Regions from separate parts of the Homo sapiens genome. Here region 1 is linked to region 2. Evidence: fine-mapped expression QTL. Tissue or cell type: gastroesophageal junction. Region 2 holds a variant in brackets; the other region holds the start of a gene. All regions are shown on one strand. Distances are between the middles of the regions.

Region 1 (8,154 bases), 23 kb before region 2:
CAGCCTTTCAAAAGTTATTCTGGCTGTTGTTTCTGAGCAATTCAAAACTTCCCTGGGGCCCAATGAATCCATGTATTCTCCTGAAGGGCATCTTTTACCTGGATTAACAGCACAGCTGAGAACCAACACAGACCGGTTAGTTTAGGAAGAAAAAGAAAAGAAAAATACAGTAGACCAACATTTCCCTCCCCCATGATATTGTTCTCTTTTCACTTTTTCCATTCAATGTAGAGAAGGATATTTGAATCCCAAAATTTCTAAGCTGAGAGACCTCTGAAACATTATCCTATACAGCCATTTTCAAAATATTTTTAGCAACAGAACACTTTTGTGAAATGAAATTTCATCTAAAAGCCTACTGCAGAAAATGGGGTGATAAAGTAATATTTTTCATATAAATGTATCACTTTAGTTTCAAGTTATCTTTCTATAAAGGCTGTCAGTAAATTTGATTGAGGTTCTTTTGAGGAACCTAACAAATTATTCTGTGGATTTCTGCATAACACTTCAGTTCCATATTAACTTCTACATCTGATTTTTTGGTGTTTTTACTGTTACCGTTTCACGGCTGCAAGAAGATCTTGATTTTCACAATATATTTATCGCTAATCTGTATCTTGGGAAAAAGAGAACCTCACTTTAAAAATAAACAAGTTACAAGTAAAGGATGGAAGAAGATATACCCTGCAAACATGAACCACATAAAAACTCAAGGTGTCAAATTAATACCTCACAAAGCACTCTTTATAGTGGAGATTATTACAAGGGACAAAATCGGACATTACATAATAATCATGAGATCTGGTCATTTAAAAGTGTGTGGCGCCTCCCTCCCCTCCTCCAACTCTCTCTCTCTCTTGCTCCTGCTTTTGCCACGTGAAGTGCTTGCTCCTGCTTCACCTTTTACCATGAGCAAAAGCTTCCTGAGGCCTCCCCAGAAGCTGTTACCAGAAAGGGGTCCCGATCCAGATCCCAAGAGAGGGTTCCTGGATCTCGCCCAAGAAAGAATTCAAGGTGAGTCCACAGTGCAAAGCAAAAGCAAATTTATTAAGAAAGTAAAGTGGTGAAAGTACAGCTACTCTACAGACAGAGTAGGATATTCCCAAAAGTAAGAAAAGGAATGCATCCACCCTAGGTACAATACTCGTTTATATACAGGATAAAAAAGATTATGGGGAGATGTGCTCTGCTACAAGGGTTTGTGATAAAGGATTAATTTTCTTAATTACTATATCTTGCAAGAATTGATATTATGATCTTTAAAGCAAAATTAGGAATGCTTCTGTTCTCAAGATATTGGGATATCACGACACTCCTAAGTCTGGGTCTGTTCAGTAAAAACATCTAGAGGCTAGAAATACCTAATTTTCTGAGAATGCAGCCAAGCAAATCCCAGCCTCCTTTTTCCTAGATTTTTCCTATTTTTTCAAGATAGAATTGCTCTGGTTCGAACGCCTCTGACAAATCCGGCGCCATGCTTTCTGTACAGCCTGCAGAACCATGAGCTAATTCAAACCTCTTTTCTTTATAAATTACCCAGACTCCAGGTATTTCTTTACAGCAATGCAAGATGGCCTAATACATGGTCTGCATTGCTTAGGAGTCTCATGTTGATTGCAGTGTCCTCAGTGGTTTCTGAAGGAAGGCTAACTTATCTCCCAAATCCTGCTGGTGATGCTGATTTGCTCACGTATGTCTGTGGCTGGTGTAACTTGCATTTTTGTCTCTCTCATCTTGGTCAGAATCTGGTACTCCCTGGCTGACTCAGCCTCAGCCCATGTGTGCTAGCTTCTGCAGACCCCTCTGAATCTGGGCTTCATCCTCCCTTCAGCCCCTGGCCAGGGTTGTCCACTCCACAGCCTCAGCTGCAAGGTAACCTAGTCCTTATCTGGCTTAAGCTTGCCCCATGGTAGCACCCCTGGCTCTTGAATCAGCCACTTTCCATACCCTCCAACCCCTCCACCTTCCTCAGAGAATGCAGCCCCTTGGGGTCTCACCTACAACACAGCAATAACCAAGATCAGCTCTTGAAAGCAAAATCCCTCATTTCTAACCATCTATTTGCCCACTTTGTAGACGATAGCATGATCCGATAGACATGGAGAACATGGTGATTCAAGTAAAAGGAATGATCATTACAAAAGCTTGTTCCTTGAGAATGTGGAAGGGCATGGGATCCAAGTGAAGGGTGTTAAGGAAAAAAAATTATTCATGGCATTTGTTAAAGAACGGTAAGGCAGACTTCATTCAGGACCATCAAGATAGGTGTAGGGACCACTGCTATGGGGTTTTGCAGTGAAGGGAGAGAAACTGGGTTCCACTCCAAATACAACAACGAAAAGTGGAAATTTATAGCCAAGGAGCAGGGTGGGGAGCAATGGACGGAAAATTACTAAGAGGAAACACCACGGGTAAGGGGGTATTGTGGCTAAATTGAACTAACAGGATTGTTGGTGAAGGTGGGCCAGGGTGACTAGACATCACCTGGGGGATGAGGAACCTAACTGAGATATTGATGATGGGAAATTCTAACTAAACTGACTTAGCAGGATTCTTGTTAAAATTGCACAATGCAGCGACAAACATGGCAGTCTAAAAGTCCCCTGTCCAGGGCTGTCTACTCCACAGCCTCGGCTGCAGGGTCACCTAGCCCCTAGCTGGGTTAGGCTTCCTTTATGGCATGATCTTTAGTTCTTGAATCAGCCACTTTCCACATCTTCCCTTCCATCCTCAGGGAATGCAGCCCCCTGTGAGATCACCTACTTAACAGCAAGAACCAGGATCAGCCTAAACTCTAGCACTCCCTTTGCCAACTTTTTAGATAATAAATACAGATAGAGGAACATGATAATTCAGGAGAAAGCATAACTGCAAAGGATGATCCCTTAAGAAGGTGGAAGGCATAGGATCCAGGTGAAGGGCCTGGTCTCAAGTAGGATCCTGTCTCTTCCTCCAGGGAAGCAGCCAAGATTATAAGTGCAGGTCTACTGCTGTTGGGAAGTGGTGTGAATTCTTCTCTGATTGCTTCTATTTTCTCAAGGGAATATCAGTGAATATCATGAGAAAATTGGGTGCTGGTGCTTGTGGAGGGATCTTGTAAGTAGACTAGACAGAGAAGGTACACTTGTGGAGGGTGTACATTGTTTGTCTACTTGGCGGCGGGGGGACTGCCAGGAGAGTAGGGAGGAGAGAGTTAATAGCTTTGGGTAAGCTGGCTAAGGAAGGTGAATGGTGAGGAACGCGGTTGTGGTTAGTGGAGAGGAGGCCTCCTTGAGGCTAAAGGCTGTGGATGCTGGGGCACTGGAAGAGGTAGCTGTTAGGACACGATCGGGTGCTGCCCGTTATGAGAATGGGGGATGCAAGAAATGGACATCGTGGAGGGGCGCGGTCTTTCCTGAGGCCCAGGGCATGACCGCGGGCAGAAGAGACTTAAGTGGGGGGAAGGAGACCCCCCCGAGGACGGAGAGGCGCCGGCCACGGCCTGGTCAGCCCCGGGGGCGCTGAGGTCGCCGAGGAGGATCAGCGGTGTGAGGGCTGCGAGGACAGGGCGTGTGCCACGTGAGAAGCGTGTTCAGAGGCTGGCTGGGTGGGAGGAGAATGTCCATGGGATTGGCACAGGTCTCGAACATGGGGCGGCTCGGGCAGTCGCGCAGCAGAGCCTGACCCTCAGCGGATCGTCCCTCAGGCGTCAGCTCCCAACTGCAGGGAAGGGAGCCTGCGGCGGACCCAGAGGAAACAGGAGCCGACCTCCCCGGGCTCCGATGCGCAGGCCCAGAGCCCGTCAATCCTTGGCCAGCCCCGCCCTCCGGGCTGCGTTTTTCCGGCGGCGCAGGAACTTCCTGCGCGGTTGCTATGGTTCCGAGGGCAGGACTATGGGAGGCTGCCCTGTACGGTAAGTTCGTCGGGGCCTTTCCGGCCGGTACCAGTCCGAGCTCTGGTCCCCACGGTCATCACGCTTTGCTTTCTCAGCCAAGATCTCGGGGCTCAGGGCGGAAACGCAGCGGATATGTATTTTCTTCCGGGGTTGGTGGCGCTCGGCTCTCATGACCTGCAGGTGACAGTGTTGGCCGGTGGCGCGGCCCTGCTTGCCTCGTGCCCCGCCCTTCGTGCTTGAAAAAAAATCCCGCGAAGCCTTCTCCGAAAGAACATGCTGGTTCTTTGGTTGTCAGTGCCTTACAAGCCCTGGAGGCGGGGGTGAGGTGGGGATGTGGTCCCTCGCGAAAACTCAGTCAGTGGACAATAGCATTCTGTTTTTCAAATTGGCATTTCCTCGGTGAGGCTGCTAGGTACCCTAGCAACTGGTATTTCTGTTTCTCTGATTGGTTTTGTCATCTTTCTCCACGTGTTACTGGGGTTCTATGGACCTTTATCAATGTATTCTTTCATTACAAACGTCTCTGAATCTCATGGTAGAAAACTTGGTTAGACTGTTAAAGCGTAATAAAGGAAACCAATCTTATCCACAGTCCGATCACCCAGCCGTGACCATTAATCATATTCTGTGATAAATTTCCTTAGATGTTTTTCATTCGTAAAGTTGCATTTTAAAAAATGAGATTAACATTGTTTCATGAACATTCCGCTTTTTAAACTCAGCTTCACACTTTGAAAAATCATTTTCATAGTATTACTCTGTTTTAAAAACAATGCAAACGTATTGTAAGCTGTTGAAAGTTTCAGTAAAACTTGAGCGCAAAATACTCAAATACTCAAAATACCATGATCAAAGACAAACATCACCATGCTCCCTAATGAAGGCAGAGCTGTGGCATGTGTTTGTTTCACTCTTTTATCCTGGCACCTGGAGGAGTGCCTAGCACTTAGTGGATGCTCAATAAACATTGTGAAATAAAATAATATTTACACCCGGTCATTTTTTCTTTATATATAATCAATCATTTCATAATGGAGTGTAATATAGGAGCAGTTTTCTACGTGATTTTTTATTTGGCATTTTGTACTCAGTACTCAGTCTCCTAGAGTCTCCTAGTACTCAGTCTCCTAGAGATGAGAATTGATTAAAGAGTAATGAAATTATAAAAATGAGTAAACTCAGCCATTCTTAGGAGTACCAAAAACTCAAAAGTAAGTCTCTAAGCAAATGTCTGGTTAATAATAGAGTGCTGTGAAAACTATGTCAAACGCTGCAATCTGATTACTTATTGACAAGGAACTTGAAACTGAAGATGTAATCTTACCAATCATTGAAAACAATTTTGAGAAAAGAATGTTTCAAGGAAGTAATCAGCCACAATCTCATGGTGACAATCTAGTGGAGTAACTATGTCATAATATTAGCTGGTATAGCAACAGTAAGTGCCTAACCACATTCAGCATACAAGAAATATCTCTTCAGTGTCGCTACACCACTGGCATAAGAACTTAAGAGTAGACACTGGCAGACACACATGTCTTACGATCTTATTGAAGGAGTTAAAAATCACTTACCCTGGAATTGTAACTTCATGGAGTCAAAACAATGAAACTAATTAGGTAGATTTTGAAAACTTAGCTATTAAATTCCTCATATTCTTTATTTTCAAGGATCATTTAAGGTTATGAAAATTATTTCTAGAAATGAAATGCACAGCTTGGCTTTACTTAGAGTTCTTGTATTACATTTTTTTATCTTCATGCCTGGTAATGGAGTACTTATATGACTTTTATATCTTGGGATAGCAGATAGTGACATTTTTTCAGACAAGTTCTCATATATGTATGTTGTCACGGCTTTACAATTTAAGCATCCAAAAGATCAGTTGTTTCATGTAACAACTCTCTCTTTACAATTTATTTTCAGGAAAAGAAGAAGAAATGGCAGTAAAGAGGGCAACCATCATTCCACCCAGCCCAAAAGGAATAAGAGAAACCCTATCTTTCAGGATTCTCAAGATACAGAGGTAGCAAGTATGGTCAGATTGCCTCTATTTCATTCATTGCCTACACTAAATTATCCAATTTGTGCTCCATAATGAAAAGAAATGTATTATTCCAAGAAACCTTCATAAAAGTTTTCTTGCTTGATTACAGTGGCTTTTGAGCTGGAGCTTTAAATTATGATATAGTATCTCACAGAAAATGGAAAAGAAGCACAGAAAAACTTTGCTAAACATAATCAGGAGGAATTAGCCCCTGTAATTTTGTCCCCTCATATGAGCAGGGAATAGTAGTCTTACTTCCCTTCTTTTTATATGGAAAACATATTTTCTAGTACATAGTGATATGTTATTAGCTGGAAGGCAAGTCTTGCTTTCTCAGTGAAAAAAAGTGAAAAATTTGGGGCAGTCTCATGATTTTTGCAAAACTTTAATGGTGCTGGAAAAAGAGTTTGAAGTTTTTAATTTTTTATTGATATAGAATAGTTGTACATATTTTGGGGGTACATGTGATATTTTGATACCTGTATATAATGTGTAATGACCAAATCAGGGTAATTGGGCTACCCATCACCTCAAACATACATCTTTTCTTTGTGTTGGGAACTTATAAATCTTCTCTTCTATTTTGAAATATACAATAAATTATTGTTAACTGTAATTTTCCTACTGTACTGTTGAATTCTATAACTTATTCCTTCTATCTAACTGTATTTTATACCCCTTAGCCAACTTCTTTTCATCCCCCCTTCCTCTCTTCTAAACCTCTAGTAACCACCATTCTAAGGAGCTTGAATTTTAACTTCAAGGTGCTTCACTTTAATAACTTGTATTCATTAGCATAATATAGCTTTAATTGAGATATAATTACTAGTGGAGTGTTAAAGGAACCTCATAAAGTCTTTCTGAGTTAATCCTCTTAGTTAATAACTAAGTATGGCTCACCTTGCCCTCTTTTGAGCAAGATGAGAAAAGATTATCAATCCAGGTCCTCTTCTTGGTACCTACCTATACACAGGTATGATTATCCAAGATTGTGGGCAGCTACTTGGATGGGTAAAACATAACTAGATTTAACTTATATAATTTGTTCTCTTAGGTGCTGGGGGATTTTTGTTGGATATGTTTGCACATATAGGAATATTTTCTTTCAACCATACATCTTACAAATTATACCACCACTTTCCCTGTAAAAACCCTAGTACATAGGTATAAGACTTACAGAAAGTACAAACACAAAGAGCCGAACATTTCTGTACAAGTGTGTCTAACTTGCCAGGAACATTCATTTTACCTTTCAGATTACTGAGTAGTACAAGAAATTAAGAGTGGAATATTATGTAGATATACACACAAGTGGCTTATCTGGAGCAGATCTCTGCCTTTTTCTCTTCCCTACTGTATAGAGTAGGAAAAGATTTTGTGCCCTAATGCTACAATTCCAAGGGGGCAGCAGAAATAAGACAAATGAGAGAAAAACAGAACTAGGAGGCCCCAAATACATTTAAAATTAGAGGTCTATGAATCCTGTTATTTTTCAGCTGATAGGAAATCTCCCCTTGTCAGGTTATCATTTTAAGTAATATCAATTCAGATGACAACTGGGGCATTTTTGTTTTTTTGAGACAGTCTCACTGGGTCACCCAGGCTGGAGGTGCAGTGGCACGATCTCGGCTCACTGCACCCCCACCTCCCGGGTTCAAGCGATTCTGGTGCTTCAGCCTCCGGAATAGCTGGGATTACAGGCATGCACCACCATGGCCGGCTAGTTTTCGTATTTTTAGTAGAGGTGGGGTTTTTCCATGTTGGCCGGGCTGTTCTCGAACTCCTGGCCTCAAGTGATCCGCCCGCCTCGGCCTCCCAAAGTGCTGGGATTACAGGCATCAGCCACCACGCCCCGGCTTTGGTGAAATTTTTTGAAGAACATTTTCTCTTAGGTTCTTAGTAGTTTGGAGTCATTCTCATCACGTTTGATCACATAAATTCTAAGAGACAGAACTACTTTGGGAAACATTTTTGGGGATGAAATCGTTGTTGAACAATGTAATGGTCATCAGATGTGGTTTTAAACCCTATGGCAAAATGGGAACCTTCTGAAATTAGCTTCTACTTAAAGATACATTCAAAATGGAGGAACAAGCTTTTTCAAAGATGGCCTAATCTATTTTGTACATTTTAAGAAGCCGTGTTCATGGAGCATACTAAACATCCCAAGCACTTTCATATTGCAATTGAATCTTACAATCTCAGTTGTTTTAATGAATTGAATATGTCCACA
Region 2 (8,154 bases):
ATTTCTTCCATGTTTCATTGGCCCTGGTTCTTTTTTTCATATCTTCTGTGGTTTCTCTGAGCTCCCTGAGTTGCCCCAAATGCATTTCTTTAGATGGTGTATTAGTTTGTTCTTGCACTAATGTAAAGAAATACCCAAGACTGGCCGGGCACGGTGGCTCACGCCTGTAATCCCAGCACTTTGGGAGGCCGAGGCGGGCGGATCACGAGGTCAGGAGATTGAGACCATCCTGGCTAACACAGTGAAACCCCGTCTCTACTAAAAAATACAAAAAAATTAGCCAGGCATGGTGGCGGGCGCCTGGGGCAGGAGAATGGTGTGAACCCAGGAGGCGGAGCTTGCAGTGAGCCGAGATTGCACCACTGCACTCCAGCCTGGGTGACAGAGCAAGACTCCATCTCAAAAAAAAAAGAAAAGAAAAGAAATACCCAAAACTGGGTAATTTATAAAGGAAAGAGGTTTAATTGACTCACAGTTCTGCATGGCTGGGGAGGCCTCAGGAAACTTACAATCATGGAAGAAGGGGAATGGCAGAAAGGGAATGGCAGAAGGGGAAGCAGACACCTTCTCCACAAAGCAGCAGGAGGGAATGTGATTGTGTGAAGGAGGAAATGTCAAACACTCATAAAACCATCAGATCTCATAATTCATTCACTATCATGAGAACAGCAGGAGGGAATATGAGTGTGTGAAGGAGGAAATGTCAAACACTCATAAAACCATCAGATCTCATAATTCATTCACTATCATGAGAACAGCATGAGGGAAACTGCCCCCATGATCCAATCACCTCCCACCGGGTCCCTCTCTCAACACATGGGGATTATTGGGATTACAGTTAAAGGTGAGATTTGGGTGGGGATAAAACCAAACCATATCTTTCCGCCCTGGCCCCTCCCAAATCTCATGTCCTCACATTTCTTTTTTTTTTTTTCTTTTTCTTTTTCTTTTTTTTTTTTTCTTGTTATGAGACAGTCTCACTCTGTCACCCGGCCTGGAGTGCAGTGGCACAATCTCGGCTCACTGCAACCTCCACCTCCCGGGTTAAAGCAAGTCTCCTGCCTCAGTCTCCTCAGTAGCTGAGACTACAGGCACCCAACACCACACCTGGCTCATTTTTGTATTTTTAGTAGAGACAGGGTTTTACCATGTTGGCCAGACTGGTCTCAAACTCCTAACCTCAAGTGATCTGCCTGCCTTGGCTGGGATTACAGGCGTGAGTCACCACTCCTGTCCTCACATTTCAAAACACAATCTTTTGTTCCCAGCAGTCCCCCAAAGTCCTAACTCATTTCAGCATTAACCCAAAAGTCCAAAGTTTCATCTGAGACAAGGCAAGTCCCTTCCACCTAGGAGCCTGTAAAATTAAAAGCAAGTTAGTTATTTCCAAGATACAATGGGAGCACAGGCATTGAATAAATACTTCCATTCTGAGTGGGAGAAATTGGCCAAAACAAAGGGGCTACAGGCCCCATGCAAGTCTAAAATCCAGTGAGGCAGTCATTAAATCTTAAAGTTCCAAAATAATCTCCCTTGACTCCATGTCTCACATCCAGGGCACACCGATGCAAAGGATGGGCTCCCATGGCCTTGGGCAGCTCTGCCCCTGTGGCTTTGCAGGATACAGCCCCCTGCCCTGGCTGCTTTCACAGCTGGCATTGAGTGTCTGTGGCTTTTCCAGGTGTACTATGCAAGCTGTCAGTACATCTACCATTGTGGGGTCTGGAAGATGGTGACTCTCTTCTCATAGCTCCACTAGTCAGTGCCCCAGTGGGGACTCTGTGTGGGGGCTCCAGCCCCTCATTTAGCCTTCGCACTGCCCCAGCAGAGGTCCTCCATGAGGGCTTCACCCCTGCAGCAAACTTCTCCCTGGACATCCAGGCATTTCCATACATCCTCTGAAATCTAGGTGGAGGTTCCCAAACCACAATTCTGGACTTCCATGCACCTGCAGGCCCAACACCATGTGGAAGCCACCAAGGCTTGGGGCTTGCACCCTCTGAAGCAACAGCCTGAGATGTACCTTGGCCCCTTGTAGCCACAACTGGAGCTGGAGTAGCTAGGACACAGGGCACCAAGTTCTGAGGCTGCACAGAGCAGGGGGACCCTGGGACTGGCCCATGAAGCCATTTTTCCCTGCTAGGCCTTCAGGCCTGTGATGGGAGGTGCTGCTGCCAAGATGTCTGAAATGCCCTGGAGACATTTTCCCCGTTGTCTTGGCAATTAACATTTGGTTCCTCATTACTTATGCAAACTTCTGCAGCTGGCTTGAATTTCTCCCCAGAAAATGGTTTTTAATTTTCTATCACATCGTCAGGCTGCAAATTTTCCAAACATTTAGGCTCTGCTTCCCTTTTAAACATAAGTTCCAATTTCATATCAACTCTCTCAAGTTCAAAGTTCCACAGATCTCTAGGGCAGGAGCAACATGCCACCAGCCTCTTTGCTAAAGCATAGCAAGATTGACCTTTGCTCCAGTTCCCATTGAGTTCCTCATCTCCATCTGAGACTACTTCAGCCTGGACTTCATTGTCCAAATCATTATGAGAATTTTGGTCAAAAGCATTCAACAAGTCTCTAGGAAGTTCCAAACTTTCCCACATCTTTCTGTCTTCTCTCTGAGCCCTCCAAACTGTTCCAGCCTCTGCCTGTTATGCAGTTCCAAAGTTGCTTCCACATTTTCAGGTATCTTGATAACAGGGCCCCACTCTCCGCAGTACCAATTCCTCTTTTAGTCCATTCTCACACTGCTATAAAGAAGTACCTGAGACTGGGTAATTTATAAAGGAAAGAGGTTTAATTGACTCACAGTTCCACATGGCTGAGTAGGCCTCATGGAACTTACAGTCGTGACAGAAGAGGAAGCAGGCATCTTCTTCATAAGGCAACAGGAGAGTGTGAGTGTGTGAAGGAGGAAATGTCAAACACTTATAAAACCATCAGATCTCGTGAGAACCCACTCACTATTATGAGAACATCATGGGGGGACCACTCCCATGATCAAATCACCTCCCACTGGGTCCCTCCCTTAACATGGGGATTATGAGGATTACAATTCAAGATGAGATTTGGGTGGGGACACAGCCAAACCGTTTCAGATGGGAACACTGTTTCCCCAGTGATTGACAGCATCTGACCATGGATAGAACTATGTGTACTTAAATATGGTTGTGGACATCTTGTCATCCTTGCATAATCTCTTCAATGCTTTGCAGCTCTGCCCACCTGCAGTACAAGATGTGCTTGATGAATGCTAGGGAGTGATTCTGGAGCAGCATTTCCTGCACAGTCCCAGTCTCTATAAATCTGTCAATGGCAGAGTTTTTAACCTGCATAGTGAGGACCTTCTTGGGTTGGGAGGAGTCATCAGAGGGAAAGTAAGCCAGAAAGTTATCCAGTTTAACCTTCAACTTAAAATCTAGGGTTGAAGGGAAGCTCTGCTCACAAGGACTAACAGCTGAGCATTAGTGGAGAGGCCACTATTGGCAAATAGACCCTGCCTTGTCGTATTGGCCCAGGTAGCATTAGAAGGCAGGTCTTGAGGATTCTCAAACTGGAGGAAGAAAGATATGCTTCACCTGCTTATTTGGATCTGTTTATTTGAAGTAGAATTGCTGGCCCTGATGTCAAGAACCTGCAAAGATAAAACCTGGAGCTCTTTGAATAGAGCTACTGGAGAATGAGTCTTGGCGTCCTTTCGTCAGAACCTGAAAGAGTATGAGAGGAATATTCTCAGATAATTCTTTCAAGGATATCTCAAGTCAATCTTTTTCCTAGCAGCCAGAATTCCCCCATTCCACACTGAGAAGGATAGAATGGTTTTGGTAGAGAAAAAAGAGGCCAATAGTAATGGATGTGGGCTTATTCCCAAACAACTAAGTGAGCCCTATTCTCTTTCAGCTCAAGAGTATAGATTCAGGTTAATTTCTAAGACTGATTTTTCCAGAACACAGCTCTTGGAGTAAACAAATTTGCTGAGGACAAACAACACCTCAAGAATGGAGCTGCACTGGGCCTTAAGGCCCTAGGAAGCCCCATTCACATTGCATTCTATGTGAACGGTGCCTTCTGGAGTTGTGTAACACAGAGACTCTTTTAAGATCCCTGGCACTTCTATTATCTAACACAATGACAACTTTGTCAATATTCAGCTTTTGAGAGAGGGGCATATTGTTATAAGTAAGGGTATTGAGGAAACAGATATCGGAA[T/G]GTGGCATCCTAGTTTAAGGGCAAAAGAAGCCTGGAATTAGACTATGCTCACTGCATCTCTCTCACTAAATGATTACATGGCTTTGTCATCCCATTCTATTTGTTTTCCTCTTGCCAATTCCTTTTTCTTCTCAGTCAATATAGCCAAATCCTCCATCTGATCTTTGAATTTTGGAGTTCTCCAGGGCACAGTCCTTGGTCCTCTTTTCTTCTCATCAGGGATGTCATTCAGTTTCACGGCCCCAAGTAATATTCCTATACTGAGAGAATCCAAATGTGTATTGCCAAGCCTGAGCTCTCACCTCTCTCTTCCAGACCCATAAAATCCCCTAGCCCGTTCCTCTTCTCTATTTGAGGGTCTCAGTCCTCTCAAACTTGACATTTTCACATGTAATCTTATCATCTTATCCTTCTGACTATACAGTTTCCTCATTAACTCTGGCACCTCTTTCCCACACCCTCCACAGCCATCACTAAATCCTCTCCTCAGAACTAAACCTAAAAGTGGTTCAGTTAGCTTCATCTTCTTCACTGCTAACAATAATCCAATCCATGATCATTTCTCACGTGGATTAAGGTGAGAGCTTTGTTGTGACCTCCCAACATCTACTGCAGCCCCACTGTGATCCACTATCACATGAATGTAAAATTAAACTTTGACTTTTAAATTAAAATTTGAGTTAAAATTGTAGTTTTTATTATGTTACTCTCCTTCTCCAAACCCTACAATGGACTGTGTAATTAAGGACAACTGTGAAAATATTTGTTTAATTGTGATAGATGCTGCAAAATACAAGAATAAGATGTCTGGGCATATATAGTGAGGGATCTCTAAGGGCCTGGATGACTAGGGAAGGCTACCCATTCCTTTTAGGACAGTGTGCAAGACCCTTACTCTAGCCCACAAAGCTTTGCTTGATATAGCCAAGTTCAATCTCTATTTCTCCAGGCTCATCTCATGTCACTATTTCTCTCAATGCACAATTCTCAACCTCATTGACTCTTTCACATCCTCAAATATACCAACATCTTTCTTGACTCAGGCCTTTAAACACGCCCTTCCTTTTGCCTGGAATTTCCTCCCTTGTCTTATTCACCTGTATAACTCCTATTCATCCTTCAAGTTGAAGTTCAAATGTCACTTCCACAGGAAAGCCTTCTCGGACCATCTAGGCTTGGTGATGTCTCTCTGTTATATGTTTCTAAGGCAGATTATAATTTTGTTTTATGGCAATCACCAATATTGATATAGATACTTATTTATGAGTGAAACATCTGCCTCCCCTCCAGACTAAAACCTCTGTGAAAAAGGATCCATATGTGTCTGGTTCATTGCTATATTTCCAGAACACACAATAAATACCGATTGAATGAACCAGAAAAGAAAGGTGAGTTAGGGCTCCCACCCGTAGGATGGCCTCCAGAATGGATCAGAGCAACTCACAACAGGGATGGATCTGGAAGCAGGCCTTTTGGCAAAGTGTTGAAAAGAGGTTGATTCAAAGTGGTGGCCACCAATTAATCTAGTGAACAAAGCTGAGTCTTGATACCTAAGCCTATAGGAGGAAATTATCTTCATCTAACAATTTCCCTAGGTAAGCTAAAAACAGAAAGTGCTCTGGATCCTTCGTTCCCCTTCAGTTTACCCTTTCCTGTCCCATGTTTAAGGAGCTAAGTCTGAAGGCAGGCCAGACTCATTATGGGGCTGGTTGGGAATTAATTGAATGACTGCTTTTCTGGCCAACGGTAAGTCTGATATGACTTAGCAAGGAGGACTCTCTTCTATCAGCATGATAGAAGATAGGGCCTGAACTGCAACTTGGTCAGAGACATGGCTCAGCATTTGAGAAGTAACTTGCTTTCATTCAAAATTGCTCCCCTATAGAGGACCAATAAAAGGATGTGCTGGATGACAATGGTAGGGTAGGGTATGATGAAGGTCATGGGAGAAAGACCTTGGTATGTCAGAAAAGACACATACCACAGAACTATTGTGCTAAAGAGTGACTGTCATCAGAAATCTTTAAGCTACACCCACTCCTGAAAGTGGATGGCTCCTGCCACCTGCTGGATGAGCATATGGAATGCGAGTGGAAAGGAAAGGATCATAATGAACTAGAACATAGAAAGAGCAGGCTGTGAAAGTTGGCAGCACAACAGGTATGGAGATAATGAGAAGAAACCATCCAGTTTCAGATTGTTTTCAAGAATTCCTGATTGTAACTTGATCTGGTGGCCCAGCTATGCTATGGAACTTGTTTCATGGCTGTATGGAAGGGCAAAGAATGATGTCAGAAGAAAGAAAAGCAATGCCATTTCTCTGCATCTTTGGCGAGCAATTTGGAGCTATTTTTGTGTGATGACTTTGCATTAAGTTTCCTAATTCTCAGTGTGGAAGGTCAGTATGATTGAATGAGAGCTGACCAGCAGTGCTATAAAATTCCACTATTTATTTTCTACAGCTTGATAGCACCTTCCTTCACTCCCATGGAGAAGCAAGCTTAATTTTGTCATCTCACATGCTAGTTAACAAATATGGTAGATGCCTTTTCTCAGTTTTTTTTCTTTCAGTTCTCAACAGCATGGAGCCCTATTCACCACCACTCCTGGAAGCTTTCTCCTTCCCTTCCCTTCTCTGATCTTCTGCCTTACTACTTTTTCTCTTGTCTCTTTGAGTGCACAATGGAATTCTTTCCAAGCTGTTCCTCTTTGCCACACCCCCACTGCAATGGGCTGAATGTTTGTGTCCCCTCAAAATTCATGTATTGAAACTCTGATCCCAATGTGATGGTATTAGGAGGTGGGGCCTTTAGGAAGTGCTTAGGTCATGAGAGTAGAGCCCTCATGAACAAAATTAAAGCCCTTATAAGAAGTCAGAGAGCTATCCACCACCTAGGAGTACAGCAAGAAGCCAGCAGTCTGCAAGTCTAAGGGGGGCCTCATAGAACCCTGATCTCAGACTTACAGCCTCCAGAACTGTGAGAAATATGTTTCTATTGTTTATAAGCCACCAGCCTATGGTACTTTGTTATAGCAGGCAGCCAAACTAAGACACACACCCTATCAAATATTTCTTGAATTCAGTACTTAAGCCTCTACTCATTTTAGTCTATCCTCTCTGCCTCAGGATTCTCTTTCCTCAAACATTACTTCTAAGCACATGACTACTAGATGTCTATTGTTGTCCTCACCACTGCCTTAAATTCCAGATATGCATTCCCTTCTCCATGCTGAACATTTGCTCCAGTAAGTTTCTCTGTCAACTCATTATCAGTATAACTAAATCAAAATTCATCAAGACTACCCAAAATGTGCTTACATTCCTTCATATCTCAATGCATCCCACTACCATGTCCCTAGATATTCTAGGCCCTCCTTGACCTTCCAATTGTTCCTTGGATGTCTCTTCCCTATAATTTTTCAGTTACTACTTCCAGGTCTCAAATTTAGATCACAATCATCTCACGTTTAGATTAATCCAATAATATTCTAGGGGTGGTTTTCTTTCTCTGTCTCCTCTTGTCTTTCCTTTCTTTGCTGCCAGATTAACCTGATGCAGATGCCTTTTGGGTCATATTTTTGGTCAGTTCTAAAAGGGCCCCACTACTTTATATCTTACTTGGTGGTCAAGGCTTTCCTGGCCCCAGTGAACCCCTTCAGCTGTATTTCCCATTACCCTCTTTCTTCCAGAAACACTTACATCAAAACATGAACTGAAAGATATCAGGCTTCCCTTTATTTTGCAAATTGCACAAAGACTTTTATACCATAAATGTGACACCACTGACACTGCATAATCTTGCCTCAATCCATCCATTCATTTGTCTGTCCATCTCTCTGTCTATGGATGCATGAAACTATGATTCCATCCACATACCTATCCAAGAAATGTTTGGAGAGTGTCTATAGGCCATGAACTAAACCAAAGTGCACACCCTATTAAAA

Which allele goes with the higher level. Alleles are on the strand shown, and positions count from the first base shown. SD is a standard deviation of normalised expression in the study named.
With allele G in place of T in region 2, the expression in gastroesophageal junction of the gene that starts at base 3,844 in region 1 is lower (small effect, 0.19 SD a copy in GTEx).

Evidence for each region. PIP is the estimated chance that this variant, and not a neighbour inherited with it, causes the effect.
Region 1: it holds the start of VCF2, and the variant in region 2 is fine-mapped to the expression of VCF2 in gastroesophageal junction (GTEx, PIP 0.98).

Annotation. Positions count from the first base shown.
Region 1 is chrX:55,156,875-55,165,028 of GRCh38, reverse strand. VCF2 (VCP nuclear cofactor family member 2) reads left to right here and starts at 3,844. Exons shown (of 3, transcript NM_001166701.4): 1 at 3,844-3,892; 2 at 5,801-5,900. The coding sequence starts at 3,873. RefSeq lists enhancers at 3,055-3,555, 3,556-4,056, 3,882-4,181.
Region 2 is chrX:55,133,486-55,141,639 of GRCh38, reverse strand. It overlaps the pseudogene LOC100421179. Among named protein-coding and RNA genes, the nearest start is that of VCF2, 24 kb to the left of the region's middle. The variant T/G (reference allele first, on the strand shown) is at 4,210.